2 linked regions of the Homo sapiens genome follow. The protein of the gene in region 2 interacts with the protein of the main gene of each other region in a pairwise test. Each region holds a gene or a part of one and is shown on either strand. Other genes may lie near its edges.

What was found.
Region 1: the proteins of ZNF19 (region 2) and BCCIP interact in binary tests that used the Homo sapiens proteins (3 or more experiments, as listed by UniProt).

The regions. Positions count from the first base shown.
Region 1 is NC_000010.11:125,818,578-125,826,547, reverse strand, and holds the start of BCCIP (BRCA2 and CDKN1A-interacting protein), read right to left. Parts: upstream 3,003-7,970; 5' UTR 2,991-3,002; coding exon 2,826-2,990; intron 1-2,825. UniProt on the Homo sapiens protein: During interphase, required for microtubule organizing and anchoring activities. During mitosis, required for the organization and stabilization of the spindle pole.
Region 2 is NC_000016.10:71,486,309-71,494,247, forward strand, and holds the start of ZNF19 (zinc finger protein 19), read right to left. Parts: upstream 3,017-7,939; 5' UTR 2,964-3,016; intron 1-2,963. UniProt on the Homo sapiens protein: May be involved in transcriptional regulation.

The DNA of each region.
Region 1 (7,970 bases), on a different chromosome or scaffold from region 2:
ACATCTAGACTTTAAAACAGGCAAACATTGCCAAGATTGCCATCTGTGAAGAATACAAAGCACCTTCACACTATTTCTTCAGGTGACACAAAAGCCTGAGAAAACAAAACACTCAGAGTAACCTAGTTTAAATGTTGAGAAAGTCCAGTTCAAATAAACCAGACACGGCAGCCACAAAGGATAAATTATTTTCCTGATTACAAGGGTGGGCAAAAATCAAAATCACTTCAAAAGTCCCTGGAATTGCCTAGAGCTTGACTTAGCCCATGGATTTGAGGTTACACTACATTTGCTTAGCAAATATTTATTAAGTATCAATCCAGGTACCAAGCACTGTGCCAGGCACTCAAGATGAAAAGGTTAGTAAGGCAGACACAAATGATCCTGCTCTCGTGCAGCTTACGATTTAGGAAGGAATATAGGCATTAAGGAAATATTCATAGAAATAAATGTAAGTGCTATAAAACAAAGGTACACAATGTTGTAACAACTTAAAAAATAAGAAGTCAGTCAGGAAAGCCTTCCTTGAAGTGACATTTGAGCAAGAAACCGAGAAACAGCAAAGAGAGTTCCTGGTACAGGGAACAGCACAAACTAAGGCCCTAAGGCAGAAGGAAATACAATGAGTACAAGGGACTAGAAGAATGAATGTGTAGCTGGGCTCCCTGATCTCTATCTGCAAGACAACAGAATCTAGAAGATGGAACTAAAATGCCAAAAACAAAACCTAGTTGCTTTTAAACACTAACAAGATTAGTCCTTGAGGACCCTAAATCAGACCTTGATAAGTGACACAATGAACCTGGGGCTCTGATGAAATAATATATTTAAAGGCACTTCAGGTTTTAACGGTTTCAGAATTTAGGTCTTAGCTGAAGAACATCGCAGAGGAAATCAGACCTCCTTTTACCTTGCCACCCTGACTATGTATATATTTAAGTCTTCCTTAATTGTAAAATTGCAAGGCCCTGGAATTGCTTAGAGCAATTCCAGCTCCAATTTGAACTCTTTAAGTCCAGCTTTGCAGACTTCAAATGCTAACTTAGCCAGATTATGTGAGCAGCAAAACACAAGGGGTCGGGTGGGAGTGTTCCAAACAGGATCAAACTAAACCAAATAACAAACTGTCATTATTCAGGACTTAAACTTATTCCTTAGATATAAATACATTCTGTAAATAATGCTCATCTAGTGTTTTTTTCTTTGTCTAGACAGACATCTCGGACCTCTGTCCCAGACTATTATGGCACCACCAGGGAAATGGGCGGCAAATGGATTATCTGTCCAGCACCCTTTTCCTGGGTATGGGCTCATCTCCACATGGCTTCAGCAGGAACAGTCACGTTTGTAGAAAAGAGCCCTGTCCCTCATTCCCAGGTGATTTAGAATTAAGACTGTGGTGGTGTGATAGATTTCCCATGTTAACACAAGCAGCATTGATTTCTATAACCCAAAAGTAATAAAAGAGCCAGTCAAAGTTCTAAGTGAAAAATGGTGAGATGGCATTCAAGGCATAGAGCCAAAGTAAAATTTGTAAGGGAAGGAAGATTGATCACATACCCACACCATGGTGTCACCTCTAATCCTGCATCCATGCTTCTCTCCATGCTCCCCTCCATGCTCATCATGACTCATGATTACCTCTCTGATTTTATTTCCTATCACTCTCTCTTCCTTATTCTGATCCAGCCATCTAGGCTGCCTTTCCGTCCCTCAATTGTGAAGACTCTTGATTTTCTTGTAAATGAACTAGAAAGCCAATGCAGCAATCTAAGCAGAGGCCTGAGATCAGACCTATAAGATCTCTCTGACTGTAAGTGGAGTATAGACTGATTGTAGGGGAACAAAAATGGAGAAAAGAACGCCGGTTAAAAGCTGTTACATTAAATAGTAGTCCAGGCAAGAGATGATAGAGGTGTGGACTACGATGGTCTCAGAATTAGTGCTGAGAAATGTCTGGATAACAGGATTTACTGATGGGCTGGATATAGGATGAGGAAAGGGAGGAATTAAAGTTAAGCCCCAGGTTTTGGGTTAGAGCAGCTGGTGACTTTAGGGGCCATTTATAGAAATGGTGACGATTAAGAGAGGGGCATGAATTATTATACAAATTCTGCTTTGGACAAGTTAAGGCTGAGGTATCTATTTAAACATTCAGTAGGCTGAAGGATCATTCAGTCCTAATTGTTTACTAAACAAATAATAAGTACCTATATTGCCAGGCACTACGGTAGGACCTAGTCTGAAGAAAGGAACACAGTTCTATGAGACTATGAAACCAAAGATTTACCCACGACTTGGTCAGCTGCCCCAGGAGCCAGAAAATACAGCCTAGCTGAGATCTGAAGAAGGAAGGGAAAACTGCAGGATAAAGAAGAGCATTTGAAAAGGCTTCTACGGTAGAACGCGGCAAGAGCCTTCAAGAAACTGAGGGCCCAAGTGAGTGCCGCCCGCAGAGTGAAGAGGAGGACAGCTGCTGCCCCGAGGGGAGAGGGCCCCCTCTGCGAGCCCGGGGTGGCCGATTCAGGATCTGAGGCTTCAGCCTGAGAACTAAAGAGGACGAGAAGAACACACCTGTTGTGGCGGGCTTTTTCGGGGAGGACGCGGGTTGGGAGATTAACTGGACCGGACTAGACCTTTAAAAAATAACTACTATGGCTGCAGTGTGTTAAAGACCGAGGAGAAACCTGAGAAAGAACTTATCTCCAGTTTCTCCTCACAGACCCTCAGGGTCAGGGAAGACCCTACACTATTTTTACACAGCCTGGGCTTGCCAAAAAGTTTTTCTCAGGTATAAACCAACTAGGGGAGCGTGTCCTTCTCACCTCGTCAATGACCTCGTCCTCTTCATCCTTTTCCTTGTCACTGTCATCATCGTCTTCATCCTCATTTTCGACTTCTTTTTCCTCTTCCTCGTCGCGCTGGACTGGGGGATCCGGCGGCTGCGGAACCCCACTTTCCACGGCACGCCGCTTAGACCTGGACGCCATGTTGCCGCTCACACTGCGCCTGCGCAGCTTCCCCTTGCCTGACCTTCCGGACCAGCCCATAGTAGCCAAGGGGGTGAGGAACTACGAAGAAGCTCGGCGCTGAGTGCACGTCAACCCCAATGCCCCTGCTGGATTCCGCAGCCATGACCCCTTACAGTCACGTCCAGCTTGCGGTCCCATCTTGCTTTTTTCTTCCGCTTTCCACCCTCCATCACTCCTCCCAAAGCTTCCCCTCCCCTTCCCGTAGTGGTTCAACCCATCTAACCTCTGGCCTCATTCCGTGGCCTGGATGGCGGTGCGCATGCGCGAGCGCCTAGCTGCGCGCAGCCACCCACGCGACCCCAGTCTGAGGTGCGGGGTCCTGGGGCCCGGCGCGGGTGGCCGCCGCGGCCCCTCGGGCTGCGTGGGGAGGGGGCTTCCGCCCCTGTTGTCATTGCTCCTGCAGCCTTTTCGCTGGGACTGCGCGACACCGCCCCCCGACCGGGTGCCCGCTGTGTGCCAGGCCGGGTGCTGGGCACGGTCCCGCGAGGTAGGTGTCGCCGCCCGCTGTACCGGTACGGACGCCGAAGCCCGCGGGCGTGCAGGGGCCCGGCCCCGGGCGGTGTGTGACACAGTGGGGCCAGGGCCCCGAGGCTTCCGCGGACCTGGGCCTGCCCAGGCGGGGATGTCCGCTGCCGCTACCGCTGCGCCGGTGACGGAAGGCGCCTGCCCAGCCTACCCTCGCCGAGCTTCTGGAGCGCATTTCTTGACCTAAAAGTTTTTTTAAAGCCGGCACCGCAGTTAAAAATGCTTCGGCGGGGGGCCGGGCCCGGTGTCTCGCGCCTGTAATCCCAGCACTTAGGGAGGTCAAAGCGGGTGGATCACCAGAGGTCAGGAGTTCGAGACCAGCCTGGCCAACATGGCAAAACCTCATCTCTGCTAAAAGTACAAAAATTAGCCGGGCGTGGTGGCGGACACCTGTAATCCCAGCACTTTGGGAGGCCGAGATGGGTGGATCACTTGAGGTCAGGAGTTCGAGACCAGCCTGCCCAACATGGCGAAATCCCATCTCTACTAAAAATACAAAAACTAGCCAGGTGTGGTGGTGCGCGCCTGTAGTCCCAGCTACTCAGGAGGCTAAGGCAGGAGAATCGCATGCCCCCAGGAGACGGAGGTTGCAGTGAGCCGAGATCGCGCCACCGCACTCCACACTCCAGCCTGGGCGACAGAGGTAGACCCTATCTAAAAAAAAAAAAAAATGCTTCGGGGCCAGTGGGGTAGTCTAGGTTAAAGACCCGAGCCTATTTGGAGAGAAGAGTGGAGGGGACTGCGGCCAACTGCAGAGCGAGCGCCAGCCCCTGTGGCAGGTGGGGATGCAGCCTGGGGCAGCCAGGTCTTCCCATTGCGAGAGAAACAGGGTTCATCAGCTTTCTAGGAATAAGATCTGCGGTTCTCAATTGATTTTTCTCTGTAAAATGAGGGGGGTGGGTTGGATATGTTTGATTCTAGGAATGGTGTGAGCTGCGCTAATAGGCTGCTTCTGTTTAAGCAGGGTAACATCTGATAAATCAGTGATCCTTCATCAGTACGAGATGGCGTGCCCTAAAGGTCCCCAGGAGCCCAGATTGCCCATAATCGTGTTCTGTGATTTCGGTCTTTCCTGGGAGTCTCTTGTCTACCCAGCCATGTCATGGATATTAAAGTAATACTTACACATCAGCGCTCCACATCTGATGGGGCAGCTTGAAATGGCCTCTTTGGGTCGCACAACTGCAAAAACATGTTCCTGTAATGGAGAAGAGAGGAAGCTGTCAAAAAAGACCCATCAAAAGGCTAAGATTAGAAAAAAGACTCAGAAAGACCATGTGAACATATCAACAGAGTTGCACTGAGATACCATAGCCAATTTTTTTTCCTGTTTCTTTATACTTTTTTTATGGTGGTAAAAGATACATAACATACATTTTACCATCTTAACTATTTTTAAAGATACAGTTCAGTGGCATGAAGTGCATTCACATTGTGCAACCATCACCACCACTATCCATTGGCAGAACTCTTTTCATCTAGCAAAATTGAAACTGTAGTTAAACAACTCCCTTATTTTCCCTCCATGACCTTTCTACTTTCCATCTTTATTAATTTGACTATTCTAGAAACCTCATGTAAGTGGAGTAACACAATATTCTTCCTTTTGTGACTATTTCATTCAGCATGATGTCTTCAAAGTTTATCCCATGCTGTAGCATGCATTAGGATTTCCTTCCTTGTTAAGGCTGAATAATACTCCATTGCATGTATAGACCACATTTTGTTTATCTACTTATCTGTCGGTAAACATTTTGGTTACTTCTACATTTTAGCTGTTGTAAATAATGTTGCTATGAACATGAGTATCAAATATCTGTTCGAGTCCCTGCTTTCAATTCTTTGGGGTATATATGTAGCAGGGGAATTGCTAGATCATATGGTAATTCTATGTTTATTTTTTTGAGGAACTATACTTTTTTGTAGTTTGCAAATCTTTCACAGTAAACAGGATCACTTTTGTAAGACAAGTAGGGGAAAAAGCCTTACTTTATGCCCTCAGATTAGTTCCCAGTGTTGAGCTCATGGTCAAAGTGTGAATTAGAATAGTGAATGTGAAAGTAAATACAGTACTGACCCTAGGGAACTGAACTCAGCAGGTAGTAGATTGCTTACCACTCGTTCAGTGTTCATCTTTAGCTCAGAATTTATCTTAATGAGGCAGAGGGATGGTAGCAAGTGGTTAGGAGACTGAGCATGGGCTTCAGACCAGGATCCAAATTCCATCTCTCCCACTTACTGTGCTGTGTGACCTGGGACAAGTTACTCAAACCTCCCAGGGACTTGGTTTCACCTCCTGCAAATAAGGCTAACACCACCTACCTTGCAGGTTTAAGTGAGGATTGCAGTCTTGCATGTAAAATGCTTAGCCCAGTGTGATAGTTACTTTTACATGTCATCTTGACTGGATCACGGATGCCCAGATATCTGGTTAAACATTATTTCTTGGTGTGTCTGTGAAGTTGTTTTCAGAAAAGATGAGCATTTGAATGGATAGACTGAGTAAAGTGGATTGCCCTCCCCAAAGTAGGTGGGCAGCATCCAGTCTGTTGAGGGCCTAAATAGAACAAAAAGCCAAAGAAGGAAGAATGTGTCCTGTCTCCTCCTGCATGCTTGATCTGGGATATCTTCTGCCCTTGGTGCTCCTGGTGCTGAGGCCTTCACACTCAGGCTGGAACCTACACCCTTGGCTCTCAGGCCTTCAGGCTACAACACCAGCCTTCCTGCTAACAAGTCTCCAGCTTGCAGACAGCAGATCATGGGACTTCTCAGCCTCCATAACTGCATGAGCTAATACCTTATAACAAATCCCTTTCTAGATGTAAATATATGCCATTGGTTCTGTTTCTCTGAAGAACTCTAATACACCCAGTAATTAACATGAGTAAATGCTCAGTAAAAGGGTGACTGTTGTTATTGCTGATACCCAGAACACCATGACATAGAAGGTACGGGTTTGAGGTTTGGTTCTTTCTTACCAGTAAGGTGCCCTTATTCCAGTCATTTTTTTTTTCTTTTCTTTTTCATCAATGATTGATGAACATAAGTATGAGGGTAAAATGGCAGAGCAAGCATTAGACTGTAAATCTAGAGACAGGTTGAGCCCTCTTTTTACCAGTGCCGAGGTGAGTTTCATGTTGGAAGCTTCAGGAGCAGCTTCATTTCTGCTGGGGCTTCTCCCGCCTTTTTCCCCCTCAATGGGAAATAACAGGTTTCGTTATTTTCATTGGAAAAAAAGGCAGAGGAAACCCCAGACACTGCACGGTTTTTAGGCCCTAGCCTCACCAGTCTCAAGCCTCCTATCAAGGAGGGCCATATAGTGCCTCTGATCTGCTTGATGCAGACCCTAGGGTCCTTCCCACTCCCATGAGCCACCCACCAGAGTGAGCTAAGAAATCAACTGGCAGAGAGCAGAGTCACGTATGGCCAAGAGGAATTGTTCTGGGGGTTGTTTAGTAAGCAGGAGAGAGGGAGGAGAAGAAAAACTGCACAGGGATCAGATGCCTCCAGCAGAAGAAAGCGAGGCATAGAGATCCCTTACCATCTGAGTCACGTGGCACCAAATATGTTACCAGTGGCAAATCAGTAGACACCTGCAGCAACCTCAATCTTGTCTCCTCAGAAGAAAATTCAACTGGGGGCATAAGGCAGAAAAAGTGACCGAGGCAAGCTTCAGAGCAGGAGTGGAAGTTTATTTTAAAAAACTTTAGGCCGGGTGCAGTGGCTCACACCTGTAATCTCAACACTTTGGGAAGCCAAGGCAGCCGGATCACGAGGTTAAGAGATGGAGACCATCCTGGCCAACATGCTGAAACCCCATCTCTACTAAAATACAAAAATTAGCTGGGCATGGTGGCGCATGCCTGTAGTCCCAGCTACTCAGGAGGCTGAGGCAGGAGAATCGCTTGAACCCGGGAGGCGGAGGTTGCAGTGAGTTGAGATTGCACCACTGCACTCCAGCCTGGGCGACAGAGCAGGACTGCATCTCAAAAAACAACAACAAAAAACTTTAGAACAGGAAAGAAAGTAGAGTATGCTTGGGAGAGACCTAAGCAGGCAACTTGAAGGACAAGTGCTCCATTTTACTTTAAGGAAAATTAATCATTCTTTCTGTTTCAAAGATGCTGGGTAAAATTGAAATTGTTGTTTTCCCACAAGGTGAGCAAATAATGAGCATCTACTACAGGAAAGAAAGTCCATCAAAAAAGCCAACAATGGAGAGGCTCACAGCCCCTTTCCAATGTACAGGAATCTGAAACTGAGACTGAGGCAAGAGCAGCCTAGACCAGAACCCAGACACTGGCCCTCCTGTGCAAACACCCTCTACTCCACCAAGCCTCTTCCTAAAGCCCAAGGTGGCGACATGTTAACCTATCTGTGCACGCTTCTCAATTGATTTCTTTCCCAATCAGC
Region 2 (7,939 bases):
CTTGATTGAGCCACTGCACTCCAGCCTGGGCAACAAAGCGAGACCCTGTCAAAAAAAAAAAGATGATTATCTTGGATTATTCAGGTGGGCCCAGTGTAATCATAAGAGTTCTTGAACGTGAAAGAGGGAATTGAAAGAGAATCACAAAAATGACAGCACAAGAAGGACTTGGCCCAACCTCACTGGCTTTGAAGATGGAGGAAGGGGCCAAGGGTCAAGGAAAGTGGGTGGCCTCCAGAAGATGAAAAAGGCAAGGAAACAGATTCTCTCCTTAGTCTAAATCCTGAATTTATACCAGTGGGACCCATTTTGGATTTCTGACCTCCAAAACTCTAAGATAAATTAGTGTTGTTTTACGCCACTACTCATGGCAATTTGTTACAGCAGCAATAGAAAATTAATAGACACACATGTACATACCTCTCTTCTTCCCCCAATTCTAGACAACCACTTTCTTTATAGATTTGCCTATTCTGGATATTTACATTACATAAATGACCATTAAGTCTGGATATAAAACAAAAACAAGTCTCTATTGTTAATTTTATCGGTTTTTAGAAACATGGGAACCCGTATGTTTACTTGGTGAAGAGTTGAGTATATTCTTGGCCAGAAGATGGGAACACTAAAATTAAAAACAAAAAGAGTTGGGAATAACTTATTTTTGTTTTGCAGGGAGTGGAAAGGAAGAAAATTTCCACTCTCATTTGTCTGGAAAGTCTCCCAGAGAGTTTTCAAGATCATTAATAATAATAGCTAATTCACACTGACCTGTCTTCCCAGCCAATGTATCACCTCTAAGGAAATGTATACTTGATATGTTTTGGCTCTGTGTCCCCAGGCAAATCTCATGTTGAATTATGATCTTCAGTGTTGGGGGAGGAACATGGTGGAAGGTGATTGGATCATGGGGGCGGATTTCCCCCTTGCTGTTCTCGTGATAGTGAGTTCTCATGTGATCTGGTTGTTTCGAAGTGTGTTGCGCTTCCTCCTTTGCTGTCTCTCTCCTGCTGGCCATGTGAAGATTGTGCCTGCTTCCCCTTTGCTTTCCACCATGATTGTAAGTATCCTGAGGCCTCCCCAGCCATGCCTCCTGTACAGCCTGTGGAACTGTTAGCCAATTAAACCTCTTTTCTCCATAAATTACCCAGTCTCAGGTATATCTGTATAGCACTGTGACAACGGACTAATACAATACTCATACTCATGTCTGTCACAATCTCTACCATCAAACATAATTACTTTCAAGCTTTGACCATTCCTTAGATTCCAATGGGAACCACCTTTCTTTCTGGTCACCTCACAGCCTAACTATCCAGCTCTCCCTCTAACTCCTACAGTATCTTTAACTGAAGCTATAAGTAATATCAGATCATGATACCCAGAGTATGGTGTATGATCATGGCATATTTACTGTTACTTAATCCTGACTTGAAAATACTAACTTCTCTCCCATATGTCTGAAAATCCCAGCCACAAATAGGCTGAGGCTGTGGTGGAACTTAAGTTTCATGCACAAAGTCATTTTTGCCTTGGCTGCAAAAAAATATGTAGTTAAGCTAAATATTGTGCTGCAGTATCTATACTGACATATAATTCAATATTATTCTCTCCTTGCAGCTGCAAACATACTTAATGATGAAAGACAGAATGTCTTTCCCTCCAAGATTGGGAACATGGCAGGTATGTCTGCTCTTACCACTACTATTTAACATCATATTGGGAGTCTTAGCAAGAGCAAGGCCAGAAAAAGAAATAAAAGGCACATAGGTCAGACACAGTGGCTCACACCTGTAATCCCAGCACTTTGGGAGGCCAAGGTGGATGGATTGCTTGAGGCCAGGAGTTCAAGACCAGCCTGGCCAACATGGAGAAATCGCATCTCTACTAAAAATATAAAAATGAGCCAGGTGTGGTGGTGTGTGCCTGTAATCCCAGCTACTCAGGAGGCTGAGACATGAGAATTGCTTGAACCCGGGAGGTGGAGGATGCAGTAAGCTGAGAATATGCCACTGCACTCCAGCCTGGGTGACAGAACGAGACTATCTCAAAAAAAAAAAAAAAAGAAAAAGAAAAAGAAATGAAATGAAAGACACACAGATTCGAAACTCAGAACAAAACTGTTACTATCTGCAGGCAACATGATTATCTGTATAAGAAGTCCCAAAGAATCTACAAAACAAGCTCCTAAAATTAAAAGTGAGTTCAGACTGGTCACAGTGGCTCACGCCTGTAATCCCAGCACTTTGGGAGGCCGAGACAGGCGGATCGCCTGAGGTCAGGAGTTTGAGACCCGTCTGACCAACATGGTGAAACCCCGTCTCTACTAAAAATACAAAAATTAGCCGGGTGTGGTGGCAGGCACCTGTAATCCCAGCTACTCGGGAGGCTGAGGCAGGAGAATCACTTGAACTCGGGAGGCGGAGGTTGCAGTGAGTAGAGATGGTGCCATTGCACTCCAGCCTGGGTGACAAGAGCGAGACTTCGTCTCAAAAAAACCAAAACAAACTAACAAAAACATAAAAACACTATGGGACAATGGCATTTGTTTGGACACAGGTCTCCAAATCTGCCTCTTCAAAAGAAACAGACACTGCAACTGCAAGAGCCTTGGTTAAAGACTTAAGCCGGCCCCAACTAAGAGTGGGGATGGCTTCCCTAGGAGGTAGGAATCAGCTGGAGTCCTTGCCTCTCCTGGTGCCCAGGCAGTGCCATCTGCAGACACTTCTGTCATCCTCCCATCCTTGGGGGGCTCTTTCTCCAGCTCCAGTTCGTGAGCGGCAAAGCTTGCAGCTGTACAGCCTCCAAGAGCAAACAGCCCAGGTCCCACCCGGCCACAATTGTATAGTGACGCCCTCCCCGTCCCCTTCTTTGAGCTGCGCTCAAAGGACCAGCCTGGACTGCTATGCTGTCTCACTCCCAACCCAAGCTCCGCCCAACTGTGGGTCCTTGCACTTTGGCACCTTTGAGCGCGGACTCAAAACAGGCCAGAAGCGCACCGCTAGCGAGAACGGTTAGGAGGCCGGAAGTGCGTCACGCTTGTGGGGCGCTTGGAGGCCAGAAGTGCGTCATGAGCACGGCTGCTCTTTCTACGGTGCAACTTTTCCGCATCTCGGTGTTTCCGATTGGGAGACATCCTCTTCCTTTCCTTGTACACACTTTTTTCTCTCCTCAGGAACCTCACGCCTGGGTCATTGTCCATTTGGGTGGGTCAAGAAAGCGATCGCTTCTGCCCGGGAGCAGTTGATTGTCAGGAAGGAATTCGTGATAAAACCGCCATCACCACAGGCCTAGATGGTGGCCGGTGTTTCCTGGTTGCTTACTGGTCTTTCTGAGTTCTGGTTCACTCGCAGTGAATCAACTTCCTTTCACAAGCTCTGCCACTCACGGGCCATTGAGGAAGACCCTTGTGTCTCTGAGCAGCTTTTGTCTTCTGTAAAATGAGCCAGTCAGATTATACCATTCAAGCTGTCTTTAATTCCATGCACTGTAACCTCCAATGGTTTGCCACTACCCCTGGAGTCCAAGTCACCATTCAAGGCTCCTCAGACCCTTGCCCTCCTTCCCCTCTAAATGATAAAGAAAATGCCAAAAGCGCAGGGCATATGGGCTAAGAGAGATAGCTCTAAAGTGTTAGTGCCTGTGGCTTTCTGGGTCCACAAAAGAGAACTCTGGCCAGGATTTTGCTGGACTGTCAAAACGTTTGTGATCACTGTCACAGAATTACAAAACAAACTGGGGACTTAGAGCTTCTTAGTCCCATCTCCTTTACAACAGTATGACATAGTGGTAAGGAGCACAGCCTGGCATCAGGATGCTTTGTTTCAAAGGCCAAAGGACCACTCTGTGACCTTTGGTGCATTACTTAACCTGTAAGTGTCACATTTATTTCTAAAACTAGGATAATAATAGTATTTATTCCCCGGATTGTTGTGAGGATTAGATGTTAGTACATGTAAATCAGTACAATGTCTAGCACATACTAAACACTCACTAGATATTAGTAATTATTACACTCACTAGATATTAGCGATTATTAATAGCTTAGGAATTGAGCCTGAATAGGCTCTGGAGTTAATCCAGTATTCAATCTTTTTATTAAAACCTTTGAAAATGGTTATAAACCTCAGTGGGTTTGGGCATCTGTACACTTTTTACTACCAGACTAGATAGTATAAGCAAAGCCTGGTGGCAGTTCAGGGTTGGTTCTTAGAAGATCAGAGTGCTAAAATAGCTAGCTCATCATGAGCTGAGGACTTCCAGGATGACTAGTTGGACTTGCTGTTCAGTTGGGACTTCAGCAACACAAGTCCAGACAAATGGGACCATGATCCAGGTCTTCAAGAGCAACCCTCAGGCTTTCTGCAGAGTGTAAACTCCTCAAGAAAGAGGCTTTTCTATCTTGTCCATGACTGTATCCTGAGTTTCTAGAATAGTGTTTATAACACAGTTCATGATCAATAATCATTTTTTGATGAATAAAGAGTTGGACATATATGATTATACTCCCTTACTATAAGGGAGAGTGGGACAGATAATACAAGCACTCAACGCAGAATGAATCATGAGTAAGAGAAAACCAAGACTCAAAGAGTTTCAGTAAGGCCACAGCATATAATAGGTATCAGAGTTAAGATTTAAACCCTAGATTATTTCCACCATGTCAAACTGGCTTTCCAGAACAATATACTAAGTGGTATTCCAAGTCCCAATACGCCTTTCTATGCTCTCACACCGTGGACACAAGCTTTCTGACCTCAGTCCCTTCAGGAAGAGAGAGAGAGAAGAGCAACAGTAACTGTAAGAGGAAAAATCATCAAATTCTGAAATAAGGGCCAAAGAACCATATAAGATGACACGAGTCCCATTTTACAGATGAGGAAACTGAACACAGAAAGATTAAATAACGTGCTCAAAGTCATGCACAGCTCTTATGTGGCAGAGCCAGAATTCAAACCATGATAGTTTGGCCTCAGTATACACACATAAGCACTCTATCACTGCCTCAGATACGTAGTTCTGTGTCTCATAGTGAAGAAGTTGAAATATGTTAAGCCAAACTAATGTTTCCAAGCCTCCATTTATTAACTGTGATTTGGGGCAAGTTACCTAGATTCTCTGTGCCTTCAATTTTCTCACCTATAAAATGGGTACAATATTAATACCTACTTTGTAGGCTGTTGAGAGGATTAAACAACATGTGAAAATCATTTATTTTCATATCTAACTTATTGTAAACATTCGCTACATTTCTAATTAATTGATTGTTTCATTTTTATTTAGTTTTTTTTTTCTTTAGAGTAGGGGTCTCTCCATGTTGCCCAGGCTGGATTTGCACTTCTGAGCTCAAGTGATTCTCCCCAATCAGCCTCTCAAATAGCTGGGTATATAGGCATGTGCCACTGTGCCCAGATAAGGTATAATTTAAGTTCAGTAAAGAGTACAAATCTTAAGTGTAAAACTTGATGAATATTTATATATGTAACTTCAACCTGATCAAGATATAGAATGTCCCCAGCACCCCAAAAACCTCTCTGTTATACCCCTTCCTAGTTGATAGCCTCCCCAAAATAATCACTATTCTGACCTCCATCACCTTAGCTTTACCTGTTTTTAAACTTTATATAAATGGAATCATATTGTAATAGAACCATGCAGCTCATTTCTTTAATCTAACATAATATCTTTGAGATTCATCTATTGGATATAACTATAGTTCATTCATTTTTATCATTGTTTAATGGTTCATTGTTAAATAAACCACATTTTTTTACCCAAAAAAATCTACTGTGATGGACATTTAGTTTTTTTTTTACTTTTTGGCTCTTATGAATAACCTTGAAGATTATTTATGAATAACTGCAATAAACATTTTCACACGTCTGGTGAACATAAGCTCTTATCTTTCTTAAACATACTTAAGAGTGAATTTGCTGAGTCATTGGATATCATACATTTCGCCTCAGTCAATAACTGCCACCAGACCAGGTGGTATAAGCAAAAAGATAACACAACTTTATTACTATTAATAATTTTTTCTTTTTTAATGTTTTAGAGATGGGGCCTTGCTATGTTGCCCAGGCTGGTCTTGAACTCCTGGGCTCAAGAGATCCTCTGCCTCAGCCTCCCAAAGTGCTGGGATTACAGGCATGAGCCACCATGCCCAGCTAATAACAATTCTTAATATCCTTTAATACCCAGCCATAATCCATTTTCCCTGATTGTCTCAAAAATGTCTTTTTACAGGTGGTTTATTCTAATCATGACCTAAACAAGGTCCTTACGCTGCATTTAACAATATGTCTCTGAAGTCTCCGTGTAAAATGCAGTTTTTCAGTGTGCTTGTACCAATTTCCTGTTTAGTAGCAGCATATGAGAGTACACTTGTTCTACATCACACTCAATAAATGTGAACCATTATGAGAATTGTAACTCTAATTATTTGGTGAATCAGAGGAGGAAGGCTAAAATTATACTGGGTTTTGCCTGGGGTAACTGAGTAGGTGGTGAGGTTTCAGGGGGAGAGGCGGACAAGCAATAATGAGTTTTTGGTGTCTGCATGGAAATACATCTAGTTGGACATGTCATCTGAAGCCCAGGGGAAAGTGCAGGGCAGAGGTAGTGATATGGGTGGATAAAGATGTAAGACCAGATGGGATCACAATGAGCCAACAGAGAATTTGTAACCAAACAGCCTAGCCTGAAAATGCATTTTAAAACCTTTTTTCTTTTTTCTGTTTTTTCCCTAGTCTCAAGATATAACCTTGAAGCTTACTGCATATATCATTGTTTTCTTCTCCTTAGTCTTAAAGTACAGCCTTGAAATTTACTTTCTTTGAAACACCACGTCCCTCCCTTTCTTACCATACACTTCCTTACACCATGCACATTTTTATCTAACTATATGCTGGTATCTAATTATGTGATTACTTAGAAATTCCAGGGGCTAATCTTGAAACAGACCAAGCATAGGGACCCAGCTGCAAAATTCCAGAAATTCAAGGCAGTTAGAAAATAACCTGGCCATTGTTGAGATGATGCCAGCCCACACTCTAAGTGGACCACAGCTCAAGATAGCCACTGGAACAAGACACGTAGACCTTGTACTCAGTACCCCTCTCACATGCCTCCCATTCCAAGTTCCCTTTTTTAAGCCCTTCTCCTCAGCCTAAAATTTGAAGTGGTTACCTTGGATGTGAATCCAGCCACTTCCCCACTGCAAGTTTTGGTAAAGAATAATGTCACTTTCTTTCTATCATAGCTCGCTCTTGTTATTGGATTCTGCAAGCAGCAAGCGGCCAGACCTGCCTTCGGTTACAAGTTCAAAGGCCCAGATGGTTCATTTAAATAGAATAGGGGCCTAAGTTTCTGTATTTTTCACATGTCCCCTGGATGATTATGACACACATTAATGTTTGAGCACCACTGATGAAAGCAGTGGGTTAAGGAAGGAACCCTAGAAAGCAATGACATTTTAGGAGGAAACCTCTCATGACATAGGTTCAAATTAAGAGAGGATGTGGAATCTTGGAAGATACAGAAGTAGGGTTTTATGGAATGGGAGTTCAACTGTGTCAAACCAGCAGGGTTTTGTTTTGTTTTTTGAGACAGAGTCTCGCTGTGTCGCCCATGACGGAGTGCAGTGGCGCAATCTCGGCTCACTGCAAGCTCCGCCTCCCAGGTTCATGCCATCCTCCTGCCTCAGCCTCCCGAGTAGCTGGGACTACAGGCACCCGCCAGCACGCCCGGCTAATTTTTTGTATTTTTAGTAGAGATGGGGTTTCACTGTGTTAGCCAGGATGGTCTCGATCTCCTGACCTTGTGATCCGCCTGCCTCAGCCTCCCAAAGTGCTGGGATTACAGGCGTGAGCCACCGCTCCCGGCCCAAACCAGCAGAGTTTTAATAAAAATTATATTAATAAAATAAGGACCACAACAG